Homo sapiens: one gene and its partners. The protein of the gene in region 6 purifies or fractionates together with the protein of the main gene of each other region. This does not show direct contact. Each region holds a gene or a part of one and is shown on either strand. Other genes may lie near its edges. The genes, in order: SUPT6H, PNO1, TSR1, ARL1, LTV1 and RIOK3.

Region 1 (3,791 bases), on a different chromosome or scaffold from region 6:
TTGAGACGAAGTCTCGCTCTGTTGCCCAGGCTGGAGAGCAGTGGCACGATCTCAGCTCACGGCAACCTCCGCCTCCCAGGTTCAAGCAATTCTCCTGCCTCAGCCTCCTGAGTAGCTGGGATTACAGGCGTGTGCCACTGCTCCCAGCTAATTTTTTGTATTTTTAGTAGAGATGGGGTTTCACCATGCTGGCCAAGCTGATCTTGAACTCCTGACCTCAAGTGATCTGCCCGCCTCGGCCTCCCAAATTGCTGGGATTACAGGCATGAGCCACTGTGCCTGGTTGACAAGTTGGATTTCTAAGGGATGGGGCCCTGTGCTACACATTCTCCAAGGTTTAACAGTGCTCCTGCAGGGCCAGCCTTGGGGTCTGAGGGCTTCCCATAATGGAATAAACACCGCATGTTTTACCTCTCCATGTCAGTGGTGTCCAGAGCCCGGATGCCATCAGCAAGAGGTTTGTCAGGGTCAGCAGAGATCTGTTCATACTGATAAGCCTGCATCTTCTCAAACAGCCGTGTTAGGTTCTCTTTACGGATCCGCAGCTGGGTCCACTAAGGTGAAGTAGGGCAGGAATGAGAGCTTGTGTTCAGCCCTGGAGACTCAAGGCTGCTCTGATCCTTACCAGAAACCTAGTGGGGGAGGACTAGACAGGCCTGGGGGGTTTGGGTTTGTGGTATCCTGGTAGTAATGGTGCCTTCCCTGGCCCACACCTCTTGGGGGCCACGGATCTACATTACCTTTTCATCCCACTGCCAGACTCTCCATAGGTCATTGATGTGCAACTCAGGCTCCACATACTCCTTTCGATAGAAGGCAATAAAAGGCACCTAGGATGGCAAAGAGACTGCAGTCACTCAGAGAAGACAGATTTGCTAAGATCCCCTCTGTCAGTAGATAATGACTTCCTGGAGAAACAGCTCCAGGAAATTCAACAGTCAGAAGCCTGGCCTCCCTCACAGCCCTTCCAGGGCCTGGTGCTTTCCTCAATAGGAGAAAATAAAGCTGCAGACAGGGTAGCATTGTTCTTACGATCACTAGGGTCTCTGCTGGTCCTAACACTTGTTGAGTCATGGATAGGGGATACGGGAAGGGGGCTCCCACCTCATTTAGGTAATTATCTTTTCCCTCATCCCCTAACTAAATTTCTCACCAATGGGCCACCAGAGCTTGAGGTGTTACCTCAAAATGCTGATTTCGCATGAAGCCCAGGGCCTCTTTGATCTTCTGAATTGTGCTGGGCCCTTTCCGACTGAAGCTGCTGGCTGGCTGCCCTCGGTCTAGGTAATCACAGCTTTCCTACAGTAGGAAAATAAAGAAATAGCAAGACAATGTTTACTTGGTTTGTCTTACCATACAAGACTGCTTAATAACAAAGGATAACCTTTCTAGATGAAATCTAAAAAATTTTTCTCATATACACACACTTGTTGGGACTACATACACACAGTTTTCTAATACCAGGCACACGGATGTATGAAATAGGGGAGGAAGAGCTCCCCATCTTGATGAAGTGTCTTTTGGTTCATGTCAAAACCTAAGGATCTTTTTTGTGTACCTGGAGAGAAATGGTTGGTGTGGCAAAAGCATTCCTGTAGATCCAGTCAGCTTCTTCTTCTAGTTCATCATCTTCAGCCCCCTTGACTGGGATGGAGCGGAGCTGGAGTGGATAAGACAACAGGGTGAGACGGACTTTATCTTGTGTCTCACTTAAGAAAAACATACCTTTTTGGACAGAAACGTGTGATCATCAAGTGCACATTTCCAGTATTGTTCTACAAATGCCATACCAGTGTTGTTCTGGCATGAAATAAGCATTTTTTTTTTTTGAGATGGTGTCTCACTCTTGTTGCTCAGGCTGGAACACAACGGCGCGATCTAGGGTCACTGCAACCTCCGCCTCCGGAGTTCAAATGATTCTCCTGCCTCAGCCTCCTGAGTAGCTAGGATCATAGGTGCCCGCCACCACGCCCAGCTGATTTTTTTTTTTTTGAGATGGAGTCTCGCTCTGTTGCCCAGGCTGGAGTGCAATGGCGCGATCTCAGCTCACTGTAACCTCCGCCTCCCAGGTTCAAGGAATTCTCCTGCCTCAACCTCCCAAGTAACTGGGATTACAGATGCATGCTGTCAACGCCCAGCTAATTTTTTTTTTTTTTTGTATTTTAGTAGAGACAGGGTTTTACCATGTTGCCCAGGCTGGCCTCTAACTCCTGAGCTCAGGCAATCCACCCACCTTGGCCTCCCAAAGTGCTAGGATTACAGGCGTGAGTCACCGTGCCTGGCCGCCCAGCTAATTTTTTACATTTTTAGTAAAGACGGGGTTTCACAATGTTGGCCAGGCTGGTCTCGAACTCCTGACCTCAGGTGATCCACCCACCTTGGCCTTCCAAAGTGCTGGGATTACAGGTGTGAACCACCGTGCCTGGCCATAAGCATTTCATGGTTTTTTTTTTTTGAGACAGGGTCTGCTTCTAGGCTGCAGTGCAGTGGTGCAATGATGGCTCACTGCAGCCGTGACCTCCCAAGTTCAAGCAATCTTCCCACCTCAGCCTCCTGAGTGGCTGAAACTACAGGTGTGCACCATCACAACCAGCTAGTTTTTTGTATTTTTTGTAGAGACAAGATCTCCCTATGTTGCCCAGGCTGGTCTTGAGTTCCTGGACTCAAGCAATCTGCCACCCTGGCCTCCTAAAGTGCTGGGATTATAGGTGTGAGCCACAGCACCCAGACTGCATTTCACAGATTTCTAAAGAAAACAGTATTTCTAGAACCGTAAGCAAGGTAGAGTCTATCTTCCCTTCTCTAAGAGCTGGATTTCCCAGGCCCCAGGTGAGATGAGGTTCAAACCTGTGCTGGATACTCAATGCCAGACTTTTGCTAGAATATTTCTTGGCTACAAGGTAATTATGGATTGGTAGAAGAGCAGAGGCTGGTGGTTTTTTACCTGGAACCTCTCAGGCAGGTCAGTGGCTCGGATTTCATTGTCCTGATCTGTGAGGTGGCTGCTTTCTAGCTCACTGGGCTCATACATTTCAAAGATGCTCCTACGGCTCACACGCTTCTTGGTGGTCTTCTTGGGGCGCACTCGGATTTCACCCTCAGCCTCATCATCCTCATACTCATACTCTTCCTCCAGTTCTTCATCATACTCATTGTATTTCTCAAATTCATCATAGTCAAAGTCCACACCGAAGATTTCCTGGGCTTCTTGCAGGGCCCTGTAGGTGGCAGCAAGAGGCAGGTGGCTCAGGTTCAGGTGAGAGGAGAGAAATGCAGCCCTTGCATAGATCCTTTACTTGTCCCAAGGGAACTGAGAGGGTTAGGAGGAAGGTAAACAAAATAACCATATTCACTGTGGACGAAAGGCTTCATTGGCGGATATTTCTGGGCAAACTATTGTATATGGAAGATTAAAAAGCTCATCTTTGGCACCTTCGAGTGACAGTAATCAAATAGCAACAGAGCAGACGGGTCTATGTCTTGCTCAGTGGACCCATCTTCTGCTAAGGCATTACAGTATTCCCTCAGGGCAAAAGCTTTCAAATTTGTAAATTGTGATGCGGGCATTTGTCTTCCAACAAAAATATATTAAGAATGTCAATATATATATAATTGAATAAACATGGAGCTGTAGGCGGAAGAGGAATGCTGGAGCCTTGCCCATGTGGGACTCTACTCCAATCCCACAGTAGTCCTAGAGTGCAGAGACAGCTCCCAGGGCTTCCGGGAGCAGTCTGAAATCACTGCCTGGTAGAGGTTATTTGAGGCAGGGAAGCAAAATGGCTGCAAGC
Region 2 (3,791 bases), on a different chromosome or scaffold from region 6:
GGAGATCCCTATGTTGCCCAGGCTGGTCTTGAACTTCAGGGCTCAAGCATTCCTTCCTCCCACCTTGGCCTCCCAAAGTGCTGGGATTATGGGCATGATCCACTGCGCCCAGACTATATGTGGTATTTTTATTTTTATTTTGTTAGAGTCTCACTCTGTCGCCCAGGGTTGAGTACAGTGGCACGATCGTGGTTCCCTGCAGCTTCAACCTTCTGGGCTCAGGTGATCCTCCCACTTCGGCCTCCCAAGTAGCTGGGACTACAGGTGTGGGCCGCCACACCCGGCTAATTTTTGTATTTTTTTGTAGAGAAGGGGTTTCACTATGTTGCCCAGGCTAGTCTCAGACTCCTGAGATCACGCCATCCACCTGCCTCAGCCTTCCAAAGTGCTGGGATTACAGATGTGAGCCACCATGCTTGGCCATATTTTTAAATGTGGTGTGCATTTGCACATTTCCAGTTCAAAATAGCTTCTCCCAAGGCTCCATATTTCTGACTCTAGGCTCAATCCATAAAAGATCAAACAATATAATTATATGCCTGGCTTCAGGTAAAGAGGGCCACCAACACAGTAGTATAGTTATCCTTAAAGTGTAAAGAATGTACAAAATTTAGGTTCTATATAATGAAGAGTCCTTCAGTATGGAGCAAAATTGAGATATTAAATGAAATTATTTCAGAATTTAGTCATAGGCAGAACCCTCCTCCTCTCAGTCAACTGTTCAGTTTCCCAACTTCATGGCATTATATAATCTCTGAGCCATCTGCCAGTAAGATCCCCAGCCTGGGCAGCTTCAACCTCAGACAGGGGTAATCCCAGCTTCACTTCTGGCACCTTTATTTTAAGCCCCTCTCATCTTGTTTATGTTCACATATAACTGCTCTCTAGTTTTGCCTAATGTACGATATTCCCCTCCTTTTATAAAAGGCCTTAACATATATATGTATATACATAAAGTAGATATATACTTCTAAAGACTCACAAGGGCATCTGAAATAGTGATTGCTTGTTCTCCCCTAGTGATTTAATAGATTCCCTTGAGTAAGTATGTATGTATGTATGTATGTATGTATGTATGTATGTATGTATTTATTTATTTGAGACAGAGTCTCACTCTGTCGCCCAGGCTGGAGTGCAGTGGCATGATCTCGGCTCACTGCAACCTCCTCCTCCTAGGTTCAAGTGATTCTCCTGCCTCAGCCTCCCGAGTAGGTGGGACTAAAGGCGTATGCCACATGCCCGGCTAATTTTTGTATTTTTAGTAGAGAGAGGGTTTCACCATGTTGGCCAGACTGGTCTCGAACTCCTGACCTTAGGTGATCCGCCCGCCTCAGCCTCCCAAAGTGCTGGGATTGCAGGCGTGAGCCACTGTGCCCAACCCGAGATATTATTTAAATCTTCACCTGTAATAATTTCTTTTAATAGCATTTCCTCATTGTTAAATGAGAAAAGAATATATAATTTCTTAAATTTTCTCAACTTAAGCCTCTTTCAAAGTTGGTGACCATCTATTCACCCAAAAGTATACAGATGATTCCCAACTTAACACGGTTCGAACTGGGATTTTTCAACTTTACAAGGGTGCAAAGGTGATACACATTCAGAATGCTCTACTTCAAATACACATACAACCATTCTGTTTTTCATTTTTAGTACAGTATTCAATATTCAACACTCTGTCATAAAGTAGAATTTGTGTCGGATGACTTTGCCCAACTGCAGGCTAATGTGTGTTCTGACCATGTTTATGATAGGCTATGCTAAGCTATAATGTTCCATAAGTCAGGCATATTAAATGCATTTTAGACTTATGATATTTTCAATTTATGATGGATTTATGAGGAGCATCTGCACTGACAAAGATTTAGCAGCAACATTATGCATAAAATACAACTGTTATGACTTTCTTAAAACAAAAGATCAAATATAAATTATGACAATAATTTTCTCAAGATCAGATACTTACACATCAGCCAAAACTATCCTTGTCCGTGTCACATTCTCTATGGTGAATTTGGTTTTTCCTCCTTTGCCAGCGATTCTTCCTATTGCCCTGGATAGATGGTCTCCCTTTAGGGGTTTAACTAAACAAGAAAAGCAAGATCTCAGGAGGCAAGCCATTCTAGTGTACCACCCATTCCACATAAAGTTTAATCATAAACTAAATTTCTCTAAAGGACACAAAGTGTATATATATATATATAAGTTGCTAAAAATACAGCTCAATTGATGCTATTAGAAAACTGAGAGTCACATCACAATACAAAGTCAGCGACACAAGAGCGCAGACCAACACACACTCACCATCTGTAATTTCAAAAGACTCTAGGAAGAGGTCATCCAACCTGATGAGGGCAAGTGCATCCTATAATATAAAAACAAACACCGTGAAGCCCCTTCCATTTGCACACCTGAAAAAGAGTAAAGTGCAAAGCACTATGGAACTAAAATCCACAAACTCTAGAGCTAGAAAGCTTTTTTTTTTCCCTTGGAGACAGAGTCTTACGCTGTCGCCCAGGCTGGAGTGCAGTGGCGTGATCTTGGCTCACTGCAATCTCTGCTTCCCTGGTTCAAGTGATTCTCCCACCTCAGCCTCCCAAGTAGCTGGGACTGCAGGCATGCACTACCACACCCAGCTAATTTTTTTGTATTTTTAGTAGAGATGGAGAGTATCGCCATGTTGGCCAGGATTATTTTGAACTCCTGGCCTCAAGTGATCCACCTGCCTCAGCCTCCCAGAGTGCTGAGATTACAGGTGTGAGCCACTGTGCCTGGCCTTTTTTTTTTTTAATGCCTAATCCATTGAAATGTTCACATTGAATATTTTTAAAGTCCCCATTTTAGATATCATGGAATTACTCACCTCCACCTGAAAGCCGAGAATAAAAGCTTTCACAAAATCAGCTGCTTTTGTCAGAGCACTAACATCCTTGGTTTCTTTACAAGTCTGTTAAAAAACAAAAAAGGGTACAAAATACCGTTGAGAATCAAACAGAAAATGTCCTAACAAAATACTGGAAATGTCCTTTCCCATTATTGGAGAATTTCCTTCACCACCACCTTTCCCTAATATATTCTGTATGACACAGGTTCTGGTCAGATAAGTGCTGTACTTTATTTGCAAAACAAAACGTTCCCAGCTCCAAAGCTTGGCTGTTCCACCCAAAGAGTGTCAAATAACTAACCGCACTATATGATCAGATTTTGGGGTTAACAGCAAGACTCCTCTGGCACAACCCAATCTCTCCCATTCTGAAGAACCTCTACCTTCTGTCCATCCCTTCAATGCCCAATGTCCTCTTCTCTTCTCTCTCAAGGCAGTCTTCCCTGGGATTCCTGACTTAATCTTCTTAGTTATCATTTATATGCTGATGTTTCTTAAACCAACAGCTCCAGGCCTAACTACCTGCATGCACTGATTGGGGAAATAAAGAATGAATGAAGCACTGAACCTGTCCTCAAAGTTTATTTGAGAAATGCAGAAATAACTGTTATTCATAAAAAGCCTACCACTGTAAATAACACGTACTATAAATAACATGCTTTACACACCATAACTCTAACCTTCACAACAACTTTGAATGTTAAGTGATATGACTACCTTCGTATGTGAGGAAACTAAAGTACTAAAAAGCAAAAAAGGTAAGATTTAAACACAGGTCTGATTTCAAAACTGTTATTTCCACTGTCCCATGCACATTCACAGTCTAGTTGAAGAGACCACGTATTCAACAAATGTAAAACCATATGGGCTTGTGCAATGGGAGAGTCCCCAGAGCTTTCCCATTTAA
Region 3 (2,572 bases), on a different chromosome or scaffold from region 6:
CTACTCTATTTACTATTATTATTATTTTTTGAGACAGATTCTCGCTGTTGCCCAGGCTGGAGTGCAGTGGCACGATCCTGGCCCACTGCAGCCTCCACCTCCCGGGTTCAAGCGATTCTCCTGTCTCAGCCTCCTGAGTAGCTGGGATTACAGGCATGAGCCACCACACCCCGCTAATTTTTTTGTATTTTTTTTAGTAGAGACAGGGTTTCACCATGTTGGTCAGGCTGGTCTTGAACTCCTGACCTTGCGATCCACCCGCCTTGGCCTCCCAAAGTGTTGGGATTACAGGCGTGAGCCACTGCGCCCGGCCTATTTATTATTTCTAATATTTTTATTTTTTTTAAGAGATGGGGTCTTGCTGTGTTGGCCAGGTTGGTCTGGAACTCCTGGGCTCAAGCAGTCCTTACTTTGGCCTCCCAAAGTGCTAGGATTACAGGTGTGAGCCACCGCACCCAGCCAACTCTCTTCTTAATCCATGACAATTTTACAGCACAAAAGCAGTTACAAGTGACACCATCATAGTCTTTTCCCTGAATTCCATGTCATCAAGCTACTATCCATACCAAGGGGCTACCCTTTTCTCAAATTACCAGGACAATCAGATGTGATCCAGGCAATGGAAGGCTAGTATCAGACATATAATTTATTTATAAAGTGCTTGAAGATATTTTCATTACATCCACAAAAGGGAAGGCTCTTACTTGGGCAGAAATGTATTACTTATTGTGCCTATTTTCTTTTTTTTTTTGAGACGGAGTCTCACTCTGTCACCCAGGCTGGAGTGCAGTGGCACGATCTTGGCTCACTGCAAGCTCCACCTCCCAGGTTCACGCCATTCTCCTGCCTCTGCCTCCCGAGTAGCTGGGACTACAGGTGCCTGCCACCATGCCTGGCTAGTTTTTTTTTGTTTTTTTTTTTTGTATTTTTAGTAGAGACGGGGTTTCACCGTGTTAGCCAGGATGGTCTTGATCTCCCTACCTCGTGATCCGCCCACCTCGGCCTCCCAAAGTGCTGGGATTACAGGCGTGAGCCACTGCGCCCCACCCCATTTTGGTGTGATCTCAGCTCACTGCAACCTACCCCTCCCAAGTTCAAGTGATTCTCCTACCTCAGCCTCTTGAGTAGCTGGGATTACAGGGGTCTGCCACCACGCCTGGCTGATTTTCCTATTTTTAGTTGACACTGCATTTCACCAGGTTGGCCAGGCTGGTCTTGAACTCCTGACCTCAGCTGATCCACCCGCCTCGGGCTCCCAAAGTGTTGGGATTACAGGTGTGAGCCACCACACCAGGCCCATATTTTCTTTTAGACATGCAGGCAATGTTGTGGTTTGTTGTTAAGATGTCTTAATATTCCTCTTCCCAGGCTCTGAAACCTAGTGTGAAGGTATATGCTGCTGAACCCTCAAATGCAGATGACTGCTACCAGTCCAAGCTGAAGGGGAAACTGATGCCCAATCTTTATCCTCCAGAAACCATAGCAGATGGTGTCAAATCCAGCATTGGCTTGAACACCTGGCCTATTATCAGGGACCTTGTGGATGATATCTTCACTGTCACAGAGGATGAAATTAAGGTGAGGCTCCAGCAAGAAAAGAAATAGCAAAGCATGGTGTAACTTCTTAGGCAGAAGAAACTTCCCTTAGGAGTAGCAAGTGACCCACGGGAACCTGACTAGGTAACTTCATGACATGGGAGGGTACCCTAGATGTATTAATGACAACCCTCTTGACAGAAGCAGAGTCAGAATTAAAGAAAAGCTTTGGGAAGCGTGTGTACACAGTGATAAGAAAATTCAAACTGGACACGTATTCTCATCTGAACTTTATAGGTAAACCAACTAGACTCCCCTTTCACTAATTCCTACTCCCTTCCATATCAACAGTGTGCAACCCAGCTGGTGTGGGAGAGGATGAAACTACTCATTGAACCTACAGCTGGTGTTGGAGTGGCTGCTGTGCTGTCTCAACATTTTCAAACTGTTTCCCCAGAAGTAAAGAACATTTGTATTGTGCTCAGTGGTGGAAATGTAGACTTAACCTCCTCCATAACTTGGGTGAAGCAGGCTGAAAGGCCAGCTTCTTATCAGTCTGTTTCTGTTTAATTTACAGAAAAGGAAATGGTGGGAATTCAGTGTCTTTAGATACTGAAGACATTTTGTTTCCTAGTATTGTCAACTCTTAGTTATCAGATTCTTAATGGAGAGTGGCTATTTCATTAAGATTTAATAGTTTTTTTTGGACTAAGTAGTGGAAAAACTTTTATACTTAACTGAGACATTTTGTCAAGGCTAAAAAAAAGTCTTGCAAAATGGGGCAGTGGACTGACAGGCTGACATAGAAAATAAACTTTGCCCAATCACAACTTGTGCCTCCCATCCCTGGAGTACTGACTGGCACCGGTAAGACAGAATCTCTTTGAATCCATTACTCCATGCCCCCTTGAGGCACTGTTGAAGAAATCTCACTTTTCAGCCAGGGTACTGGTTCTGGTACATATGGATCATAAGTCCATTTGGGGAAGACTCGTTTATACAGGTTCATCAGTACTGTGTCTTGAGATTTTAGCTT
Region 4 (2,870 bases), on a different chromosome or scaffold from region 6:
TGTAGGTGCTACAATCAAGATTCAAAGTCCATGCTTTGAGCTGAGCGTGGTGGCTCACACCTGTAATCCCAGCACTTTGGGAGGCCAAGGCAGGTGGATCACTTGAGGTCAGGAGTTCGAGACCAGCCTGGCCAACATGATGAAACCCTGTCTCTACTAAAAATACAAAAATTAGCCGGGCGTGGTGGCACGGCACCTGTAGTCCCAGCTACTCAGGAGGCTGAGCCAGGAGAATCGCTTGCGCCTGGGAGGCAGAGGTTACAGTGAGCCGAGATCGTGCCAATGCACTCCAGCCTGGGTGACAGTGAGACTCCATCTCAAAAAAAAAAAAAAAAAAAAAAAACAAAAGTCCATGCTTTATAATTTGTAATTACGGGCTTAGAATATGACAGTATGTGGCACAGAAATCAAATGTTCATTCACTTCAGCATCTGTGCTTTGATGTAGTGTGTATCTCAAACGGGAATTCTCACGCTTCTAAGGGCTTTGTAATTTATCAAAAGGAGGCCATCTTAGAAGACTGATTTTAATTAATTCTAAGTGACTTAAGTGCATGTATTGCTTTCATAAAATTTTTAAAAATAAAATACTAAGGCAAAGATCAGAAAGGACAAATATATCTGGCATATTGAAGACGTCTTTGTTTTTAATCAATACATATTTATTGAGTGCCTACTGTGTGCCAGGTGCACCACACTAGATGCAACGGATACTAACAGTAAATAAGATACGGTCCCTGCCCTCAGAGCTTACATTTCAACAGTTTAAAGTGCATCTCAGGTATTTCAGATAACAGAAGTAATTCTACCACTCTCAAATTTTTTTTTTTAATGCAAGACACAACACAATCATAGGCCAGAGTTATAAAATACAATGTTAGAAAGAAACGTTTGGTATCATTCGTCCAGATCCCATTTTACAGAAAAGAAACTACAGGAGTGGCCATTTGCACCTATGTTCTGATTTCAAGTTTGGTGTTTTACCCATTGCCAGGCCTCTCATAAAACAATATTCAGATTTGCCATGTATATATCAATATCCAAACGCTGGTAGTATACCTGTGCAGTTGTCTCCTGCTAGACAAGGACCATATAATTTATAGCTTATTTAAGTGTCCACTTTCTTTATCCCATCCTATTCTTTGTGATAAACCAGAGGGATCAGGCTTAACCAAGTGCTGAACTTTGGGGCAACTTCATGCCCTAGGATTCAAGATGGCCAGCGGCTACATGCCGGGTCTGCCTGCCAGGACCTTACTTCCCATTTTTTGCAGTTTTCCTGGACTGCCGGGAGGCAGCTGTACAAGCTTTATAAGCCTCAGGCTGTAAGTGAACTTGCTTTCTGCATTTTCCAGCCATGTGCCATTGACCAGGAGTGAACTCAAGTATAAATTGCAAAGGGCTACTTGTCAAGATGACAAATATCTATCCTACTGTTTCAACTATGAACATATTCTGAAATGCCATATGCCAGGCGCCATACCAGATACTAGGGACATAAATATGAAAAAGTCTTTGCCCCTCAGGAGTAATATTGGTTGTACTGGAACATTTGTAGCTGAAGGAAAATCTCCAAAAAAGATTTCAAAGAGACTAAAGTAGGAATGGGTGCTGGAGAATGAGCAAGAAGGGTGAGAGTCCCACGGGTGAAGGGAGAAAGCAGCAGAGAATGAATATAAGCCCGGAGAATGAACATAAATGTGAGGGGAAGAGGCCAGAGGCCAACACTGGAAGGACAGTGAGGGCCAAGAAAGGAACTACTAATGTTTCTGAGACCTGCAGGGAACCATGGTATTAAGCTCTCATTACCAGCACCTAATTTTTTAGAGGCTGGTTTTCCAACTTAAGTGAAAGAAATTCACCCTGTTTTTAGCAATTATGACGCACTATATTTACTTCTGTCACATTAGCTGATTCTGTGGTGGACTGGGTAATTTGAAAAGCTCCTTTGAACATGAATTGTTTTTAAACTTACAGTCTAGCAATAAGCCTAATTTTTAAAACAGAATGCTTAATTTCTCCCTGTACAATCAGTAAGATTTTGATTTTTAACAAGTTTACATGTCCAATTACATGTAGATAAAAGGAATGAAAACCAGTAAAGACACCTTTTATAATCTGAAAATAGATTTTTAAACCTTCCTTTAATGTGAAATTTTCTCTTTAATGTGTTATGAATTCTATCAAATATAACCATTTAGGATTATTTATAGTATGTCACTGATCACTTCTACTAGTATAGACAAATAAATTTATAAACATTATTTTGAATGTAACTAATTAGCATAATTTTATTTAAGAGTTAGACTGTGTTGTCAATACTGACATTTTTGGGAATATATAGTATAGTTTATGAGTCAAGCTTCTGAACCAAAAGTTTTACTTTGAGCCCTATTCCTACCTTACAAGCTAGCAGGTGACCTTGGGCAAGCCAACCTATTAGAACCCTGGGTTCACGTCCATACAGTGAAGACATCATAACCTGTCCTACCTACTTCACAAGCTTCCTCTACCGATCAACTAGATCAATATATGTAAGATTTTTTTTGACAACTGTAAAGTACTATAAAATGACACTTACAGATAAGTCAGTGAAGTTAACCATCAAAACAATATTCATGCCTATAACCAAAAGCTTTTAAACAAAACAGCTTAATAAAAAGTGGTCAGGTAAGCAAATAAAGATTATATTACACAAACTATGTTCCTCACCTACTCTCATACTGAGTCTAATCTTTGGAAAGATAATTCATTTTAAGGGGAAAAAAATCTGTTAAGATATTTTTTAGTATTTATACAAACAAGCTGCAACTACTATTCAAAAATAGGTTTTTTTCATCCAATAGGAGTATACTCTTTAATAGAACTGTA
Region 5 (3,791 bases), on a different chromosome or scaffold from region 6:
CTAGGAGACACCTCCCATCAGGGGTCAATAGACACCTCATAGAGGAGAGCTCTGGTTGGCATCTGGCGGGTACCCCTCTGGGACAAAGCTTCCAGAGGAAGGAACAAGCAGCAATCTTTGCTGTTCTGCAGCCTCTGCTGGTGATACCCAGGCAAACAGGGACTGGACTGGACCTCCAGCAAACTCCAGCAGACCTACAGCAGAGGGGTCTGACTGTTAGAAATAAACCTAACAGAAAGGAATAGCATCAACATCAACAAATAGGACGTCCACACAGAAACCCCATCCAAAGGTCACCAACAACAATGACCAAAGGTAGATAAATCCAAGAAGATGAGGAAAAACCAGCACAAAAAGGCTGAAATTTCCAAAAACCAGAATGCCTCTTCTCTTCAAAGGATCACAACTCCTCGCCGGCAAGGGAACAAAACTGGACGGAGAATGCGTTTGATGAATTGACAGAAGTATGCTTCAGAAGGTGGGTAGTAACAAACTCCTTGGAGCTAAAGGAGCATGTTCTAACCCAACGCAAGGAAGCTAAAAACCTTGAAAAAAGGTTAGAGGAATTGCTAACTAGAATTACCAGTTTAGAGAAGAACATAAATGACCTGATGGAGCTGAAAAACACAGCAAGGGAACTTTGTGAAGCATACACAAGTATCAATAGCCGAATTGATCAAGTGGAAGAAAGGACATCAGCGATTGAAGATCAACTTAATGAAATAAAGCGTGAAGACAAGATTAGAGAAAAAAGAATGAAAAGGAACGAACAAAGCCTCCAACAAATATGGGACTATGTGAAAAGACCAAATCTCTATGTTTGATTGGTGTACCTGAAAGTGATAGGGAGAATGGAACCAAGTTGAAAAACACTCTTCAGGATATTATCCAGGAGAACTTACCCAACCTAGCAAGAGAGGCCAACATTCAAATTCAGGAACCACAAAGATACTCCTCGAGAAGAGCAACCCCAAGACACATAATCGTCAGATTCACGAAGGTTGAAATGAAGAAAAAAATGTTAAGGGCAGCCAGAGAGAAAGGTCGGGTTACCCACAAAGAGAAGCCCATCAGACTAACAGTGGATCTCTCAGCAGAAACCGTACAAGTCAGAAGAAAGTGGGGGCCAATACTCAACATCCTTAAAGTAAAGAATTTTCAACTTAGAATCTCATATCCAGCCAAATTAAGTTTTGTAAGTGAAGGAGAAATAAAATCCTTTCCAGATAAGCAAATGCTGAGAGATTTTGTCACCACCAGGCCTGCCTTACAAGAGCTCCTGAAGGAAGCACTAAATATGGAAAGGAAAAACTGGTACCAGCCACTGCAAAACGTACCAAACAGTAAAGACCATCGATACTAAGAAGAAACTGCATAAACTAATGGGCAAAATAACCAGCTAGCATCATAATGACAGAATCAAATAACACATTACAATATTAACCTTAAATGTAAATGGGATAAAAGCCCCAATTAAAAGACACAGATTGGCAAATTGGATAAAGAGTCAAGACCCATCAGTGTGCTGTATTCAGGAGACCTATCTCATGTGCAAAGACGCACACAGACTCAAAATAAAGGAATGGAGGATATTTACCAAGCAAATGGAAAGCAAAAACAGCAAGTGTTGCAATCCTAGTCTCTGATAAAACAGACTCTAAACCAACAAAGATCAAAAAACACAAAGAAGGGCATTACATAATAGTAAAGGGAACAATGCAACAAGAAGAGCTAACTACCCTAAATATATATGCACCTAATACAGGAGCACCCAGATTCATAAAGCAAGTTCTAAGAGACCTACAAAGAGACTTAGACTCCCACACAATAATAATGGGAGACTTTAACACCCCACTGTCAATATTAGACAGATCAACGAGACAGAAAATTCACAAGGATCTTCAGGACTTGAACTCAGCCCTGGACCAAGCAGACCTAATAGACAGTGACGTAACTCTCCACCCCAAATCAACAGAATATACATTCTTCTCAGCACCACATTGCACTTATCCTAAAATTGACCACATAATTGGAAGTAAAACACTCCTCAGCAAATGCAAAAGAATGGCAATCATAACAAACAGTCTCTCAGACCACACTGCAATCAAATTAGAACTCAGGTTTAAGAAATCCACTCAAAAATGCACAACTACTTGGAAACTGAACAACCTGCTCCTGAATGCCTACGGGGTAAATAACAAAAATAAGGTAGAAATAAATAAGTTCTTCGAAACCAATGAGAAAAAAGACACAACATACCAGAATCTCTGGGACACAGCTAAAGCAGTGTTTAAGGGGAAATTTATAGCACTAAATTCCCACAGGAGAAAGCAGGAAAGATCTAAAATCGACACCCTAACATCACAATTAAAAGAAGTAGAGAAACAAGAGCAAACAAATTCAAAACCTAGAAGACAAGACATAACTAAAACACAGCAGAACTGAAGGAGATAGAGACACGAAAACCCTTCAAAAAAACCAATGAATCCAGGAGCTAGTTTTTTGAAAAGATTAACAAAATAGATAGACTGCTAGCCAGACTAATAAAGAAGAAAAGAGAGAAGAATCAAATAGACACAATAAAAATTGATAAAGGGGATATCACCACCGATCCCACAGAAATACAAATTACCATCAGAGAATACTATAAACACCTCTATGAAAATAAACTAGAAAATCTAGAAGAAATGGATAAATTCCTGGACACATACACCCTCCCAAGGCTAAATCAGGAGGAAGTGGAATCCCTGAATAGACCAATAACATGTTCTGAAATAGAGGCAGCAATAGCCTACCAACCAAAAGAGAAGCCCAGGACCAGACAGATTCACAGCCAAATTCTACCAGAGGTACAGAGAGGAGCTGATACCACTCCTTCTGAAACTATTCCAAACAATAGAAAAAGAGGGACTCCTCTCTAACTCATTTTATGAGGCCAGCATCATCCTGATACCAAAACCTGGCAGAGACACAACAAAAAAAGAAAATTTCAGGCCAATATCCCTGATGAACATCAATGCGAAAATCGTCAATAAAAAACTGGCAAAACAAATCCAGCAGCACATCAAAAAGCTTATTCACCACAATCAAGTTGGCTTCATCCCTGGGATGCAAGGCTGGTTCAACGTAATCCATTACATAAACAGAACCAATGACAAAAACCACATGATTATCTCAATAGATGCAGAAAAGGCCTTTGATAAAATTCAACACCCCTTCATGCTAAAAACTCTCAATAAACTAGGTATTGATGGAACATATCTCAAAATAATAAGAGCTATTTATGACAAACCCTCAGCCAATATCATACTGAATGGGCAAAAGCTGGAAGCATTCCCTTTGAAAACCGGCACAAGACAAGGATGCCCTCTCTCACCAATCCTATTCAACACAGTATTGGAAGTTCTGGCCAGGGCAATCAGGCAAGAGAAAGAAATAAAGCGTATTCCAATAGGAAGAGAGGAAGTCAAATTGTCTCTGTTTGCAGATTAACATCACTGTCTATTTAGAAAACCCCATCATCTCAGCCCAAAATCTCCTTAAGCTGATAAGCAACTTCAGCAAAGTCTCAGGATACAAAATCAATGTGCAAAAATCACAAGCATTCCTATATACCAATAATAGACAAACAGAGAGCCAAATTGTGAGGGAACTCCCATTCACAATTGCTACAAAGAGAATAAAATACCTAGGAATCCAACTTACAAGGGATGTGAAGGACCTCTTCAAGGAGAACTACAAACCACTGCTCAAAGAAATCAGAGGGGACACAAACAAATGGAAAAACATTC
Region 6 (4,417 bases):
CTAGGCAACATGGTGAAATCCGATCTCTACACAAAAATACAAAAATTGGCTGGGCGCGGTGGCTCACACCTGTAATCCCAGCACTTTGGGAGGCCAAGGTGGGAGGATCACAATGTCAAGAGATCGAGACCATCCTGGCCAACATGGTGAAACCCCATCTCTACTAAAAATATAAAAATTAGCTGGGCATGGTGGCATGCACCTGTAGTCCCAGCTACTTGGGAGGCTGAGGAAGAAGAATTGCTTGAACCCAGGAGGCGGAGGTTGCAGTGAGCTGAGATCATGCCACTGCTCTCCAGCCTGGTGACAGAGCGAGGCTCCGTCTCAAAAAAAACCCAAAAATTAGCTAGGTGTGGTGGCACTGGCCTGTAGTCCAGCTAATCAGGAGGCCGAGGTGGGAGCCTGCAAGGTCAAGGCACAGTGTGAGATGTGATCATGCCACTGCACTCCAGCCTGGGTGACAGAGTGAGACCCTGTCTCAATTAAAAAAGAAAGAGGCCAAGGTGGGCGGATCACGAGGTCAGGAGATCGAGACCATCTTGGCTAACACGGTGAAACCCCGCCTCTACTAAAAATACAAAAAATTAGCCGGGTGTGGTGGTGGGCACCTGTGGTCCCACTACTCGGGAGGCTGAGGCAGGAGAATCGCTTGAACCCAGGAGGCGGAGCTTGCAGTGAGCCGAGATCGCGCCACTGCACTACAGCCTGGGCAACAAAGCGAGACTCCGTCTCAAAAAAAAAAAAGAAAAAGAAAAAAAAAAAAAGAAAGACGTTGGGCATGGTGGCTCACGCCTGTAATCCCAGCAGTGTGGGAGGCCGAGGCGGGTGGACACTTGAGGTCGGAGTTTGAGACCAGCCTGGCCAATACGGTGAAATCCCATCTCTACAAAAAAAAATACGAAAATCAGCTGGGCGTGGTGGCAGGCGCCTGTAATCCCAGCTACTCAGGAGGCTGAGTCACAAGAATTGCCTGAACCCGGAAGGCAGAGGTCGCAGTGAGCTGGGAGCAAACCACTGTACTCCAGCCTGGGCGATAGGGCGAGACTCCGTCTCAAATAAATAAATAAATGAAAAGGAAAGAAAGGAAAGAAAAGAAAGGAAGGAAAGAAAGGAAAGGAAAGGAAGGAAAGGAAGGAAGGAAGGAAGGAAAGAAGTCCTGACTAAAAAGTTTTGAGAATCCTTCCATTTTTCAAAACCCTCCTCAAATCTTCACCTCCTCCATGTAGGCTTCTGTAATCACTTTGGTTTTCCAAAAGGTTAGAGAAAAAAAGGATTAATGATAGTACTTTCAGCCTGTTTCTAATTGTTTTGCCTTTCAAAACACTGTCCTCCCAATAGAGCGTCTATAAATCCCAGAAGCATTTTTGTTGCACAATGAAAATGGAATTTTATAGTTCTGATGATGTACACTTAAATAAAAATATGACTGTTAAATAGTTTATTACTGAATTAGTTTGTAAGTGAAATTTGTTCTGAGATTAGGATGTATTCTGAATAGAGTCTGTCTCATTTGACATTTTTACCAGCCTCTGCCAATGCTTAACTGAAGGACTTTAACATACAGGGTATATATTCATAATACTAGTCTGTCTACTGATTTCATCCTTTTATGTCTGCTAATCTTGACCTTGTAAACAAGGTCTCAAGGAAAAATACACAAAATAACATGCAGACTTAACCACATTTGCCAACGCAGTATCTCAGATTCTTCCAACAGCTGTACGAGAACTTTTACAAAATTAACTTTTGGTTACTTAATAGCTAATTATTGACCCCTTTTCCTGTTAAGGCCTAGCCTGAAGATCTAATAAGACCTTTTAAATGGGAACAAATATTCTGTGTTAGCATGTAAAGAACAACTATGAAGCTAAAAAAGCTAGACTCCTTTACGACCTTAATTTGTGGAACAAAAAATCCCAATGGAAGCACTCTGCTCTCAAGCAGACCCTCCATAAAGTGGCAGAAAAGTGTTTTCATCCATATAATCAAAGTATCATGAAAAGGACCTGCCTGGAAACCAGAAAGCAAATGTGAAATAAAGGTCTTTAGTTTGCCACTCTATGAAAAAGTTTAAACGTCAAAGCTTAGGCAGATAATGAAATTCATAAGCACTTTACAGTCCGTGGTGCGCACTTGAATTTCAGCGTCGAGGGAGGAGGGTGCGCCTGGGTTTTATCTTTTACTGCTTCAAAAACAAGACATTTCCAAACTGGGATAACCACACTTATCAAATTAAGTAAACAGCTTCCTAAACCAACTTTCTGTCTGGCTAGCTGTGTATTCGGCTGACTCACTTGGCCAGTGAAAAACAAGATCGTGCTTGTTTCCCCTCCAGTATCATCAGGGTGTGTAAGCCAGTCCTGCTCAAATACATGCTACGGTGATACAGAAAGTACGCTGAAGAAATAGAGAGCCCTAACCACTCAAGGTGGCCTTTGGGAGATCCAGCCGCCCTCCGCCCCTCTTTCCGCTCCCTCCATCCCCATCCCGGCACCCCCGCGGCCAGTGCCCCCTTGCCGAGGTCCGCGGGGTCCCGCCCCAGAACTTCCCGAATCGCCCACGAAGCCGCCCTCTCCGAGCTTTCCGAGAGATCCAGCCCGTGTGACCAAGGCTAGTACTCCAGTCTCGTCTGCCACTTACCTTGCTGGGTCCCCAGGCCGCTGCCGTCCCGGGCTCAGGCGATGCCACTCCTACCAGATCCATTCGGGAATGAAGGCAGAGACAAGAACAGAGCAGAGAGGTGGCAGGACGGGCAGCAGGCTCCGCCGAGGAGACAGGCGGGACACGGGCGACTGGCTGCTGATGCCGGAGTGGAGGTGACAGATGGCGGCGACGGCGGCGGCCGCGTCCGGAACTGGATCTCTCCTCTTCCGCCCTCTTCGCTAGGACAGTCGCTTGCAATTGGCCGCACGCCCCTAGCTCCTCCTTAAGGCACCTTTCCCCGCCCCCGGGCGGGCTACTTCCGGCTGCTGACCGCCGGGCTCGGAGAAGCAAGCATCAGCTGGCTGTCGCTTGGGGTCACGTTGCCTGTGTCGGGCAGGGCAGGGCAAGAACTGGGTGTGGCTTCCTTTGGCCCAGGCTCTGCCCTGTCCCCGCACTGCCATCTCCTTCTTTCCTCCTTGGCACCCCAAAAATTGCCGCTGGATCTAAACTAGATTAGACTAGTGGATTGTAAATAAATAAACAAACTAGGCTCTCTCTGTTCATTCATTATTTCCTGGAGCAGTTCTAAACTGGGATGACTTGGGAGACAGAAAACGGCAGGTTTATAGAGGGAAAGGGCCTGGAAAGGACGGTCGGAGTTTGTGGTGGTTGTTGTTGAAGGGCGGGGCGTGGAATGCGGAAAATGTGTAAAATGTGTTACGTAACAGTGAACAAAAATAAGACTGCATAATAAAACTTTTGTTTCTGTATTTTGTAGAGATTCTAATAAAATGACCAGATAAAAGATAACTAAACATTGCATTTCACTTAGTATATCAATGCACTGTTCAAATCTTTCATTAACTTTTTAGTCCTCAAAATTACCGTGAGAGCTAAATTCTGTCATTATCTCTATTTTACTGATATTGAAACTGAGGCACAGAGAGGTAAAGTAATTTAGTTGAGGTCACACAGATAACAAGTGGCAAAGCTAATAAGGGGTGAACCCAGACAATCGGTTTGGGAACTGGACTGGCTGTACATTATATTTTGACTATAAACTATACACTGTCTATATGTTGTATATTCAAACATTCTAGAAATAGGTACTGAATAACTGTTTTCCCTAAATCTCAGTTCCGAGTCAGTATCTCTAACTGTCCATACTTGAGAGCCCTGGGTTACTGATCTTAATGATTTCCATTAGCACACAATCTTTGCCTCCTTTCCATTCCAGGTGAAAACATGTTCTGAATCCTCCAAATACCCCTACTGCAATAAGGCAAACTATAGCCATATGATAGGGTGCAGATGTGTGCTTGGCAAATGTTGCCTATATATGTGAATGTGTGTGGAAATTGTGTTCCTTCCTAGTGTTCAAAGGATTATAATTGGACGATAAATAGTTTAAGAAAAATGGGTGTAACTATTAATAGAAATGGACTTCTCAATTCTGGCTAGGAAAAAATAGGAGAGGGCTGGGCGTGGTGGGTCATGCCTGTAATCCCAGCACTTTGGGAGGCCAAGGTGGGTGGATCACCTGAGGTCAGGAGTTTGAGACCAGCCTGGCCAACACGGTGAAACCCCATCTCTACTAAAAATACAAAAAGCAGCCGGGTGTGGTGACACGCACTTGTAATCCCAGCTACTCAGGAGGCTGAGGCAGGAGAATCACTTGACCTCGGGAGGCCGAGGTTGCAATTAGCCAAGATCATGCCACTGCACTCCAACCTGGGCAACAGAGTGAGACTCCGTCTCAAAAAAAAAAAAGAGA

The links.
Region 1: the proteins of RIOK3 (region 6) and SUPT6H purify together in Homo sapiens (affinity purification with mass spectrometry; one large-scale study listed by BioGRID and IntAct). This does not show direct contact.
Region 2: the proteins of RIOK3 (region 6) and PNO1 purify together in Homo sapiens (affinity purification with mass spectrometry; one large-scale study listed by BioGRID and IntAct). This does not show direct contact.
Region 3: the proteins of RIOK3 (region 6) and TSR1 purify together in Homo sapiens (affinity purification with mass spectrometry; one large-scale study listed by BioGRID and IntAct). This does not show direct contact.
Region 4: the proteins of RIOK3 (region 6) and ARL1 purify together in Homo sapiens (co-immunoprecipitation; one large-scale study listed by IntAct). This does not show direct contact.
Region 5: the proteins of RIOK3 (region 6) and LTV1 purify together in Homo sapiens (affinity purification with mass spectrometry; one large-scale study listed by BioGRID and IntAct). This does not show direct contact.

What each region holds. Positions count from the first base shown.
Region 1 is NC_000017.11:28,675,584-28,679,374, reverse strand, and holds part of SUPT6H (transcription elongation factor SPT6), read right to left. Parts: intron 3,219-3,791; coding exon 2,945-3,218; intron 1,661-2,944; coding exon 1,559-1,660; intron 1,300-1,558; coding exon 1,183-1,299; intron 831-1,182; coding exon 741-830; intron 555-740; coding exon 412-554; intron 1-411.
Region 2 is NC_000002.12:68,160,839-68,164,629, reverse strand, and holds part of PNO1 (RNA-binding protein PNO1), read right to left. Parts: intron 2,948-3,791; coding exon 2,864-2,947; intron 2,366-2,863; coding exon 2,305-2,365; intron 2,085-2,304; coding exon 1,967-2,084; intron 1-1,966. UniProt on the Homo sapiens protein: Part of the small subunit (SSU) processome, first precursor of the small eukaryotic ribosomal subunit.
Region 3 is NC_000017.11:2,321,768-2,324,339, forward strand, and holds the end of TSR1 (pre-rRNA-processing protein TSR1 homolog), read right to left. Parts: coding exon 2,429-2,572; 3' UTR 2,107-2,428; coding exon of another isoform or gene 1,888-2,106; 3' UTR 1,579-1,887; coding exon of another isoform or gene 1,369-1,578; 3' UTR 629-1,368; downstream 1-628. Other genes in the region: SRR (serine racemase), read left to right, coding at 1,369-1,578, 1,888-2,106. UniProt on the Homo sapiens protein: Required during maturation of the 40S ribosomal subunit in the nucleolus.
Region 4 is NC_000012.12:101,392,497-101,395,366, forward strand, and holds the end of ARL1 (ADP-ribosylation factor-like protein 1), read right to left. Parts: 3' UTR 620-2,870; downstream 1-619. UniProt on the Homo sapiens protein: GTP-binding protein that recruits several effectors, such as golgins, arfaptins and Arf-GEFs to the trans-Golgi network, and modulates their functions at the Golgi complex.
Region 5 is NC_000006.12:143,853,104-143,856,894, reverse strand, and holds part of LTV1 (protein LTV1 homolog), read right to left. Parts: intron 1-3,791. UniProt on the Homo sapiens protein: Essential for ribosome biogenesis.
Region 6 is NC_000018.10:23,451,726-23,456,142, reverse strand, and holds the start of RIOK3 (serine/threonine-protein kinase RIO3), read right to left. Parts: upstream 2,857-4,417; 5' UTR 2,704-2,856; coding exon 2,641-2,703; intron 1-2,640.